Homo sapiens: one gene and its partners. The protein of the gene in region 2 interacts with the protein of the main gene of each other region in a pairwise test. Each region holds a gene or a part of one and is shown on either strand. Other genes may lie near its edges. The genes, in order: MTUS1, ORC4 and FBXL5.

What was found.
Region 1: the proteins of ORC4 (region 2) and MTUS1 interact in a two-hybrid assay, tested with the Homo sapiens proteins (one large-scale study listed by BioGRID and IntAct).
Region 3: the proteins of ORC4 (region 2) and FBXL5 interact in a two-hybrid assay, tested with the Homo sapiens proteins (one large-scale study listed by BioGRID and IntAct).

The regions. Positions count from the first base shown.
Region 1 is NC_000008.11:17,798,219-17,802,340, forward strand, and holds the start of MTUS1 (microtubule-associated tumor suppressor 1), read right to left. Parts: upstream 2,877-4,122; 5' UTR 2,843-2,876; intron 2,700-2,842; exon of another isoform or gene 2,380-2,699; intron 1-2,379. UniProt on the Homo sapiens protein: Cooperates with AGTR2 to inhibit ERK2 activation and cell proliferation. May be required for AGTR2 cell surface expression. Together with PTPN6, induces UBE2V2 expression upon angiotensin-II stimulation.
Region 2 is NC_000002.12:148,010,596-148,014,248, forward strand, and holds part of ORC4 (origin recognition complex subunit 4), read right to left. Parts: intron 1-3,653. UniProt on the Homo sapiens protein: Component of the origin recognition complex (ORC) that binds origins of replication. DNA-binding is ATP-dependent. The specific DNA sequences that define origins of replication have not been identified yet.
Region 3 is NC_000004.12:15,627,824-15,631,476, forward strand, and holds part of FBXL5 (F-box/LRR-repeat protein 5), read right to left. Parts: intron 2,969-3,653; coding exon 2,843-2,968; intron 211-2,842; coding exon 62-210; intron 1-61.

The DNA of each region.
Region 1 (4,122 bases), on a different chromosome or scaffold from region 2:
ATATACCAGGCCCAGTGGCTTCTCATCAACAAATGCAATTAGTTTTGCAACAGTCTCTAACCCAAGATATGGAAGTTCTTGCAATGAATTTGAAAAGATTCTAATTTAGAATTTGGGGAATTTTTTTTTTTTAAGATGGAGTTTTGCCCTGTTGCCCAGGCTGGAGTGCACTGGAGTGATCTCGGCTCACTGCAACCTCCACCTCCCGGGTTCAAGCGCTTCTCCTGCCTCAGCGTCCCAAGTAGCTGAGATTACAGATCCATGCCAACACAATTGACTAATTTTTTGTATCTTTAGTAGAGACGGGGTTTCACCATGTTGCCCAGGCTGGTCTCGAACCCCTGACCTCCTGATCCGCCCGCCTTGGCTTCCCAAAGTGCTGGGATTAGAGGCGTGAGCCACCGCACCCGGCTGGAAAATTTTTTTTAAATCTTCTACCACAGTCACATATAGTTCTGAAGCTACGATTTAGAAGTGTTAAAAATTCTGTTTTGAGAAAGTCAACAGATTTATCAACATTAAAGAAATTTGTGTATGTCAAAACTACTGTAAATATATAAAGCAAAGATAAAATGGGAAAAGTATCTGCAATATGAATGGCAAAGATTTACTATCAATCCATAAAAGGCTCTTATGAATTAATGGAAAAATACTAATATCCCAGGAGAAAAATCTGGCACTACATCAAATTTCAAAATGGAAAACAACTAGATTTCTTTGGTGTTCAAATCATCTGTAATCAAAGAAATTGAAGTTTAAATATAGAGAAAGCACTGTTCACCTATAAACCTGGGAAGAATTTTTTTTTTTTCCCTTTAAGGATGATTCTACATGTTGACAAGAATACGGTAACACCAGTATTCTCACAGAGAGCTGGTGGGAACATAATTTGGTTAAACATTTTTTGGAAAGCAAATGGTCAATATGTATGAGGAGATCTTCCAACCATCAACTGTATTTCAAGGGCACTAAGGATATTAACCCTGCACATAAAGTTTTAAAAACGTATTTGTTGCAAAAGTATATTTAGTAAGTGGAAATAAATGAAAACCAGTTTGATACATCTATGTAATGTAATATTAAGTAGCCACTAAGATTTCTGAAGATTTCATGACATGGAAAATTTTTCATGATACATTAATCAGGAAAAAACCTCCACGCAATAGTATATTTAGATAAACTATATAACTATAAAAAATTTTTCTATATATTAACAAGTATTTTCTTAAATATTAACTGTGATTATCTTTGCTGAAATTGCTTAACTCACTTTTCTCAATCTACCTATTTTTATACAGCAAGCACGGATTACTTTTGAAATCAAAACAAACAGGGTTAACAGAACAGGGCTATTAAGTAACAGGCTTTTTAAATGCTTGAGTGTAATAACTGCAGGTTAGTTTCCAAAAAATATAAGATATTATCTAGAATCTTATAATCCTATTATACTCCAAAATGTAACCTTGACTTATTGACATAATTAAAAGGTCTTGTTCCAAGCATGATTTTCTACCAAGCAGATTTACCAAGAATTATTTTCTCTTCATAAACCTGATTTTAAAAAGAACAGGTGAAAAAACGTGGTGCAAGTTACATAAATAACTACATATTATTTTAAACTAAATTCCACTTCTAAGGTTTTTTAGCTTTGGTTTTAAGGATAAGCATGTAGTTCTAATCTTTTCTTTGTATAGCTTTCCTAATGGAATATATTGCCTATGAAAAAAAAAAAATCTGTAACAGCACTTTCTACACTGTAAAGCACTGTACTAACAGGACATCACCATTTTAAGTTGTGTATCATTTCCTGCCCTAACCATCCCTGAAAAAGCAAACTGTCTACAGAATTGCAATTCCGTTTATGCAATTCCTTTTAAAGTTGTCCATGCACTGTTATCTTGTATATACCCTCCTTAAAGAGGTCACTGGTTCCCAGGAAGCAATGACTCTCTTTTTTAATCCCCTCCCTCCTGCATTGCCTCCCTTCCTCCTGAAATTCACTGGTAACACCCCTACTCCCACCCTCCAGCCCCAGCGCTGTGATTTAGTGATGATTGACTTTCGATCACCTGCACCTGGCAAAACTTGAAAGCTTCCACGCACCGTTTTGCCTAAGACTTTGGTTTCATTGAAACAAACAAAACACACTGGATTTCCTTTCTTAGAACACTGACTACTTCAAACAAACAGTATTTAACAGAGTATGTGTAACTACGCAGGCTAAATGAATTAACCTCTTCCTTCCTAGTCCCAAATTACTCCAAGTCAAAAATCAACAAACAACTTGGTAGAAAGGAGTACGTCTTCAAAAAAGAACAAAAACGTTCCTCAGTGAACACCTAAGTCCACTAAGCACTATAGAGTAGTCAATAAGGTCACCTTAATTAAGATGAGATTTTTCTAGAGCGTGAAAAAGTGCAAACAAGCTGCAGAAAGTAGCGAGGCGCCACGAGGGGTCTTTGGGACCTGCAGCAACCCTATTCCACCCGCTTTCTCGGCCCCGCTTGCTTCTGCTGAGAAGGGGCCCTGCGAGAAGGCTGGGACCGCCGGGCCCGGGTGGGCGGCGTAAGGAGTCCACAGTCAAGCCCCTCGGTCACTTTCAAGGTGACAGCGACGAGATCCGCATCCGTCCCTTCCGCAGGCTCTGCGCTGGCCCACGTGAGACCCGCCTCCGCTCCGCCGGCGCTGCCGCCCCCTTTAGCCCTCAGCTTCGGCCCCCAGGCCCCTGGAACGCCCCCTCCCCTCCCCGAGGACCGGTCCCGTCACCCTGGGCGGCGCGCTCGCCTGTCCCCTCCCCACCCCGGCCGCCGGGCAGCGGGAACAGATTCCAGCGCGCACTTACCCGCAGCTCCTTCAAGCGCTCCGGGAGCAAAGACGCAGAGGCGGGGAGGGCTGGCGCCCTTTGCACCACTGGCGGGGTCGCCGAGAACCCGCCCCGGAGGTCTCGGGGGCGGCGTCTGCACCTGGGGGCGCGCGGCGCGGCACCACCCCACGCCTGCGGCGGCTACCAGGCGGGACCCGGAGCCCCGGCCTCCCCGCCTCCCCGCCTCCGGGGCCGCCAGGGGGTGGAGCAGGGCGGGGAGTTCGGGAAACTTGTAAATAGCCGAACTCGGGCCTCCCGCCCCAACCCGGGGCGGCTCCTTCCGAAGGCTCCACTCCAGCGGCTCGCTGCGGGAGACCAAGGCCAGCCGCCGTCCCAGGGGACGGCCCTCGGGGAACCTGAATGACGTGCGAGGCCGTACCTCGGGGCGCTGGACTCCGCTCGGGCGCTCCCGCTCTCCGCTCCCGCTCTCGGGTCCCAATCCCGACGCTCCGCGCGCTCCCGGACTAAGTGCGGACGCGCCCCACGCCCCCCGGCGCCAGCCCGGGACAGCGCTGCACCTGTTGCCACGTGCGACGCGGCGCTCAGCGGCTGCCACTGCCGCCGGCGCACCTGGCTGCACCGCGCGTCCCGGGACCACGCTCGTCCCCGCAGGAGCCCGGGGCTCCGCCGCACCCAGCGCTAGGGCCCAGGCCGGGCCGCGGTAGGTGGGGGATCTGACTCCTGCTTGCCTCTGGCCACCTGCAGGCCGAGGGGCCTCGCACCGCGGGGCGTATAGAAGGTGGGAAGGTTGCAGAATTATCAGGGCGGAAGCTTGCAAGGAAGGAGTCGTGATTGTCTCTTAGAAGGGCTGATTCGCAGTCTGTATTATCTTCATGCTTCTAGCAAGTTTACTAGCAAGTGTGTATTAAAGGTTAAAGAAAGTAGCTTTCCAGCTATTAGAGCTTGAGATACAACGTGGAAAGGAGTCTAGAACCCCAGGGAGATAAACTAGGCTCGACCTACTTTTCTCTAAACACAAACACAGTCCTTGCTGTTTGCTAAACTGAGCAAATTTCATCGACAGCTGTCTTCTAGGTCCGTAAAATATTTTCTTCTATAAAGCATATTTTTAATAGAAAACTTGTCCGAAGATGCTATTCTGCCTGTGAGAGATGTCACATTGCTGAACCGTGAAATGTCAGACAACCTGAGAACAAAATTTTAATATTTCCTTTTTAATTACCTGGATTGTGGTTTGCTAAAAGCTTTTAAAGAGAAGTGAACTTTTTTGGAGAATAGACGTAAGGACTCTGTATTTC
Region 2 (3,653 bases):
AACGAATAAATTCCTAGGCACATACAGCCTAAGAAGAATGAAACATTAAGAAAACCAAAATCGAAATAGACCCATAATAAGTTTCAAGATAGAAACAATAATAAAAAGTCCCCCATCACAGAAAAGGCCAGGACTTCATGGCTTCACTGAGTTCTACCAAACATTTAAAGAAGAACTAACATCAATCCTACTCAAATCATTCTCCAAAATCAAGGAGGATCTCCAAATTCATTTTATGAGGCCAGATTTATTCTTTTTTTTTTTTTTTTTTTTTTTGAGACAGAGTCTCACTCTGTTGCCCAGGTGATCTGCAACCTCCACCTACTGGGTTCAAGCGATTCTCCTGCCTCAGCCTCCAGATTAGCTGGGATTACAGGCATAAGCCACCATGCCCAGCTAATTTTTGTATTTTTTGTAGAGATGGGGTTTCACCATGTCGGCCAGGCTGGTCTCAAACTCCTGGCTTCAAGAGATCTGCCTGCCTCAGCCTCCCAAAGTTCTGGGATTACTGGCGTGAGCTACCATGCCTGGCCCCAGATTTATTCTGATACCAAAACCAGACAACGATACAACAACAACAAAAAAGAAACTACAGGCCAGTATCTCTGATGAAAATAGATATAAAAATCTTCAACAAAACACAGCAAACCAAATTCAACAGCACATTAAAAAGATCATCATAATCAAGTGGGATTCATCCCAGGGATGTAAGGATGGTTCAACATATGTAAATCAATCAGTGTGATACATGGTATCAACAGAATGAAGGACACAAAGTGTATTGTCATTTCAATAGATGCCAAAAAAATCTTTTTTGATAAAATTCAATATCCCTTCATAAAAACTCTCAGCAAACTGGGGACAGAAGGATCATCCCTCAACATGATAAAGCCATACACAACAAACCCACAGTTAGTATCAGACTGAATGGGGGAAAAACTGAAAGCCTTTATTCTAGGATCTAGAAGAAGGATGGGCACTTTCACCACTATTACTCAAGTTAGTAACAGAAGTCCTAGCCAGAGTAAACAGACAAGAGAATGAAATAAAGGGCATTTAAATTGGAAAGGAGTAAGTAAAATTATCATTGTTTGCAGCTCATGTGATCTTATACTAACCTAAAGACTCCAACAAACGACTATTAGAACTAATAAATTCAGTAACATTGCAGAATACAAAATCAACACACAAAAATCCATAGAATTTCTCTATGCCAACAGTGACAACCTATCTGAAAAAGAAATCAAGAAGGTGATCCCATTTACAATAGCTACAAATAATATTAAATATCTAGAAATAAACTTAACCAACTACAATGCAAACTATCAAACATTGATGAAATTAATTGAAGAGGACACAAACAAATGAAAAGACATCCCATGCTCATGGGTTGAAAAAAATTGTATTGTTAAAATGACAATACTTCCCACAGCAATCTACAGATTCAAAGCCATCCCTATCAAGAGCAATGACATTCTTCACAGAAATAGAAAAAAAAAATCCTAAAATTGTATGGAAGCACAAAAGACCCCAAATAGCCAAAACAATCCTGACCAAAAAGAACAGAGCTGGTAACTGGTAGACTTACCACACTACCAAACCTCAAAATATACTACAACGCTATAGTAACCAAAATAGCACGATAGTGGCATAAAAACAGACATGTAGAACAACAGAACAGAGAGTCCAGAAATTAATCTGTGTATTTAAAGCCAATTAGTTTTTTACTAAGGTGCCAAAAACACTCATTGGGAAAGGACAGTCTCTTCAATAAATGGTGTTGGGAAAACTGGATGCCCACATTCAGAACAACAAAAGTAGACCCCAACTCTTGCCATATACAAAAATCAAAGAAAAATGCATTAAAGACTTACATCTATGAAACTAATCAAGGAAACCATTAGGCAAAAACTCCAGGACATTGGTCTAGGCAAAGACTTCTTAAATAAGACCTCAAAAACACAAGCAACTAAAGCAAGAAAATAAAATAAAATAACAACAAATGAGATCTCTCCAAGCCAAAAAGCTTCTGCACAGCAATGAAAACAATAAAATGAAGATATAACATGTAGAATGGGAGAAAATATTTCAAACTAATATCTGACAAAGGATTAATAACCAGAATATATAAGAATCTCAAACGACTCAATAGGAAAAAAAAATCTGATTTTAAAATGGGCAAAAGATCTGAGGAGACATTTCTCAAAAAGACATACAAATGGCAAACAGGCATATGAAAAAAATGTTCCACATTATTAATAATCAGAGAAATACAAATCAAAACTATAATGAGGTATCAACTCACTCCAGTTAAAATGGCTTTTATCGAAAAGGCAGTCAATATCAGATGCTGGTGAGAATGTGGAGAAAGGGGAACCCTTGTACACTGTTGGTGGAAATGTAAACTGGCACAGTCACAACAGAGAACAGTATGGAGCTTCCTAAAAACACAACAAATAGAACTATAATCCAGCAATCCCACTACTGTGTATATACCCAAGAGAAAGGAAATCAGTATATAAAAGGTATCTGTACTCCCATGTTAACTGCAGCACTATACACAATAGCCAGGATATGGAATCAACCTAACTGTCAATCAATGGATGGATAAAGAAATGTGGTACATATACACAATGGAATGTTATTCAGCCATAAAAAAAAAATGAAATCCTGTCATTTTCAACAATATGGATGTGACTGACATTATAAGGGAAATAAGCCAGGCATAGAAAGACAAGTATCACATGTTCTCACCCATATGTGGAAGCTTCAAAAAAATTGAAGTCATAGAGATAGTGAGTAAAAAGATGTTAGCAGAGGCTGGGAAGGGTAGTGTTGAGAGGAGAATCAAGAGGAGATGGTTAATGGGTAGAAAAATATAGTTAGATAGAAGGAATAAAATATAGTGTTCAGTAGCACAATATAGTAATTACAGCTAACAATAATTTAGTGTATGTTTTAGAACAATTAAATGAGTGGAAATGAAATGTCCCTAACACAAAGAAATGACAAATACTTGAGGTAATGGATATCCCAATTACCTGATTTGATCATTACACATTGTATGCTTATATCAAATATCACATACTCCCCATTTTATGTATCCATAGTAATTAAAAATTAAAATTTTTAAATATATGAGTTAAGTTAAAAAAATTTTGGCTCAAAGCATAAATATATTAAAATCAAATCTCAGAAGTAAAAAAGAAAGACAATTAGGGTTTTATTTATGGTAGTGGCAGACAGGACCAACCTTTCTGCTGACGCCAACAAAAAAACTAAATAATGAATGAAATAAAGTAATGTGAAATTACTTACCAAATTCCATGTGAAGGTAAACCAGAAACAAACCATACACCAAGTAACTTTTGTTCTGAGGACATTTTCCTGTCTAGAAGAAAAGGCTGAGAAAAAAGGCTGAGCTAATGGAAGATGTGCCGGTCTATGGTAAAAAAATCAAAGCACAAGGCCAGGTGTGGTGGCTCATGCCTGTAATCCTATCCTTTGACAGGCCAAGGCAGGAGGATAGCTTGAGCCCAGGAATTCAGGATGATTGTGTGCAATACAGCGAGACCTCATTTAAAATAAAAATAAACACAAAAAATCAAAATCAAAAATAAAAATAAAAGCACATTGCCTAACAAAGCTGGGGA
Region 3 (3,653 bases), on a different chromosome or scaffold from region 2:
AAACCAAACTCTTATCATGCTGTTTTTCTTAATACCCAAACTAGTGTTAATTTAAACATACCATTTTGCTGGAAACTGCAGAGCTGTATGCTAATACTAAGGTTTTTACAGAAGTACCAACATATGGTAGAACGTTATGAATTAAGCCATGGAGTAAACGTTTTTCCATTTGTGCAATGCTGATAGCAATTGATTCCTCCGCAGACTCTTCTGTAAAATGAATTCAAAAGTCCAAGAACTTGATAAACTGATAATAATTAAGCTACTCAAGCGCTCACCAAATTGTTAAATATGACATACTTTGTGCTATCCTTATACTTTCTTATGTAAACCATCCCATTTTTAGGCAATGAAAAGGTTTTGGAAAAAAATGTGAAAACTGAAAAGAACAGCAAAAGTTTTCAAGAGAAAAGAAAATATGATATCAAAAGAAAAATGATCCATAGTAAAACGTACTATCACTGATTCCACATAACTAAAAAGGGCACAAAGCTAGAAAAGATTTGAAACTCAACTAAATTAGCCTGATCATAATGAATCAAGCAAAGGAAGGTACTTTAGAATTTCTAAGAAGCTAAAAATGAGCATGGCTTTTGGTTTTACTTAATAACTTCTGTAAAGCTTGGATGTTTACAACAGAATGTACTACTGTAACATCCACCATGAAAACACCATAAACTCCAATTCGAAAAAAGGAAAAAACACACTACACTAAAAAGAATGAATAATTGTATTGTATTACCTTTCTCAGGATCCTATTGTTATTATTCTTACCTAAAGACCAATTTGAATGTCTTTAAACATAAAATGATTTAACAGAATAAGTTAAGGAAGTCTCATTTAAAACAAAACTAAGTATAGCAGACAAAAGGATATCAACTAAAAGAATTTGTTACTCATGGTTCCTTGTTTAGATATTATCCTAAATTCCTCCTTTAGCCAGACACAGACACACACACACACACGCACACACACACACACGAAGATAAAATATAAGGAGATAAAAATTACTTTAGTGAGCCCTACTATAATTTTATTCCCAAACCATTCTTTTGTTTCTGTGGCCCTCACTATCTAAATGTATACTATTTACTGTGAAAATTTTAAATTTTTAATTTTTTATTGATATACAATAATTATGCATATTTTGGGGGTACATGTGATACTATGGAACCTGTATACAATGTGTGATGATTAAATCAAGGTAACTGGAACTGTGAAATCTTTAAGAAAGTTAAACATTCTATGAAAAACAATAACTTCTTAGGACAAGTAAAAAGACAAGGCAGCCAAACCGAAAAAAGCACTGAAGTAAATGACAGTTTAGTCTTTAATAATCAACAGATATATTATCTAAAAAGGCTCAATCTTTACAGCGTTAACTTTTCCTTTTCAATATGAAGGAAATTGAGTCTTTCCTCTGGCTATCTTCAAGTATGGAGACAAATACACTGAATTTGTGAGAACCTTCAACATTCTTACCACGGGTATTATGAATTAATTTTCTAGAATGAATAAACTGAGACTTCCTTAAGTTGACATCTGAGCAAATATCTCATCTCCTTCAGGTCTTTACTCAAATTTCCCAAAGGACCTTAACTAATCGCTCAATTTAAAACTGCAATTTTAAATTCTTCTTGGCATGTTTTCCTTGTCTTATTTTTCTCTACAACACTTGTCACCATCTAATATGGAATATATTTTACCTGTATTTATTGTTTGCCTCCTGTCTCTAAATTTTAAGCTCAACAAGCGCCAGTTTTGTTTTGCTTTTTTCCATTTTGTTCACCATTAGATCCTTCATACCTAAAACAATGCCTGCCACAGGTAAGCACATCACCAAATCTATCAAACTAGAATAGACCTTTTCCTTATATAGGACATTTTGAATCTTTACATCAAAATGTGGCACATCTGCGTTTCATAAAAATAAACTACTTTAGCTGCTGATACAACAATCTTTATACTTACACTGTTACTTTCCACGTGTCTTTTTTCCACATTTAATTCTTTCGCCAGACCAAATTACTTTAAGCAAGTAACTTTATAAATAAAATTTCCTATAGTTTCAGTTTTACCAACTAGAAGAATGTCTCATCTGTTCATTTTTTACTATTTTACCATCTTTTAATAATTATTATCTAGAATATCCAAGACAGAATTTGTTTTCCTCCTCACACTTCCAAATAGCATCTCTCTGCACAAGTATGACAGCATTTTTCCATCATATACTTTAAATTAAAAATTATGTTTTCTAAATTCTCTCTCATTTGTGAGTTGTTTGGAGTAGCGATGAAGTCTTATCCATCCTTGAACTCTCCCACAGTGTTTAATGAATGGCTACATTAGTTTTTGTAATCCCTTACCATTTACAAACAATATTTATGTATATTACTTCTTAATTCTACAATAACCTTATTAGGCAAGTATTAAGACTATCTACAAACGAGTAAGTCGACTCAACAGTTTCATCCTATTTCCCTCAAGCCATAGATGACTCAATAGATGCTGTGCAACTGATCACTTGAAGTGGTGCTAAAATCACATTGTAAACTACAAAGCACTATAATAAACGTACATTATTTTCATAAGAAAAAAGGTACCATTTTCTGATTTTTGATTTTAATATAAAAACGAGAAATAATCCTATGCACTCTTTAAAGTACTTCAATTAATTTAAAATTTCATTATTATTCCTTCAAATTTTAAAAAGTAGTAGGCTTAGAAACACCAGTTTCTTTAGAAAACACAAAATACATAAATCTAATACCTAATAATTATAAGTACTTAATTATCAATTATTAAAACACTATGTAATAATTTTAATTCCAAACAAGCTTACCAGATTCATCAATGTCAGCATCTTCATCCCACTCATGAAAAGCACGACTTTCATCTTTCCTATTTTTCACCCATTCATCATCAGGTTCAGTATCAAGTTCAGTTGCGGGACCACTATACCAGTCACCTACTCAATGAATAAACAAGTAAAAGGTTCAAAATAATATCAGATTGCCTGCAATTATGAAAAACTAAGCTATTTACGATAAAAATCTCTACAAAGAGAAAACATCTGAGCCCTAGGCAATAAGCAACTGTTTTTTTTTAATACTTTTAAGTTCTACGGTACATGTGCACAACGTGCAAGTTTGTTACATAGGTATATATGTGCCATGTTGGTTTGCTGCACCCATCAACTCATCATTTACATCAGGTATTTCTCCTAATGCTATCCCTCCCCCAGTCCCCTACCCCCACCACAGGACCTAGTGTGTGACGTTCCCCACCCTGTGTCCAAGTGTTCTCTTTGTTCAATTCCCAACTATGAGTGAGAACATGCGGTATTTGGTTTTCTGTCCTTGTGACAGTTTGCTAAGACTGATGGTTTCCAGCTTCATCCATGTCCCTGCAAAGGACATGAACTCATCATTTTTTATGGCTGCATAGTATTACATGGTGTATATGTGCCACATTTTCTTAATCCAGTCTATCATTGATGGACATTTGGGTTGGTTCCAAGTCTTTGCTATTGTGAATAGTGCCACAATAAACGTATGTGCGCATGTGTCTTTATAGTAGCATAATTTATAATCCTTTGGGTATATACCCAGTAATGGGATGGCTGGGTCAAATGGTATTTCTAGTTCTAGATC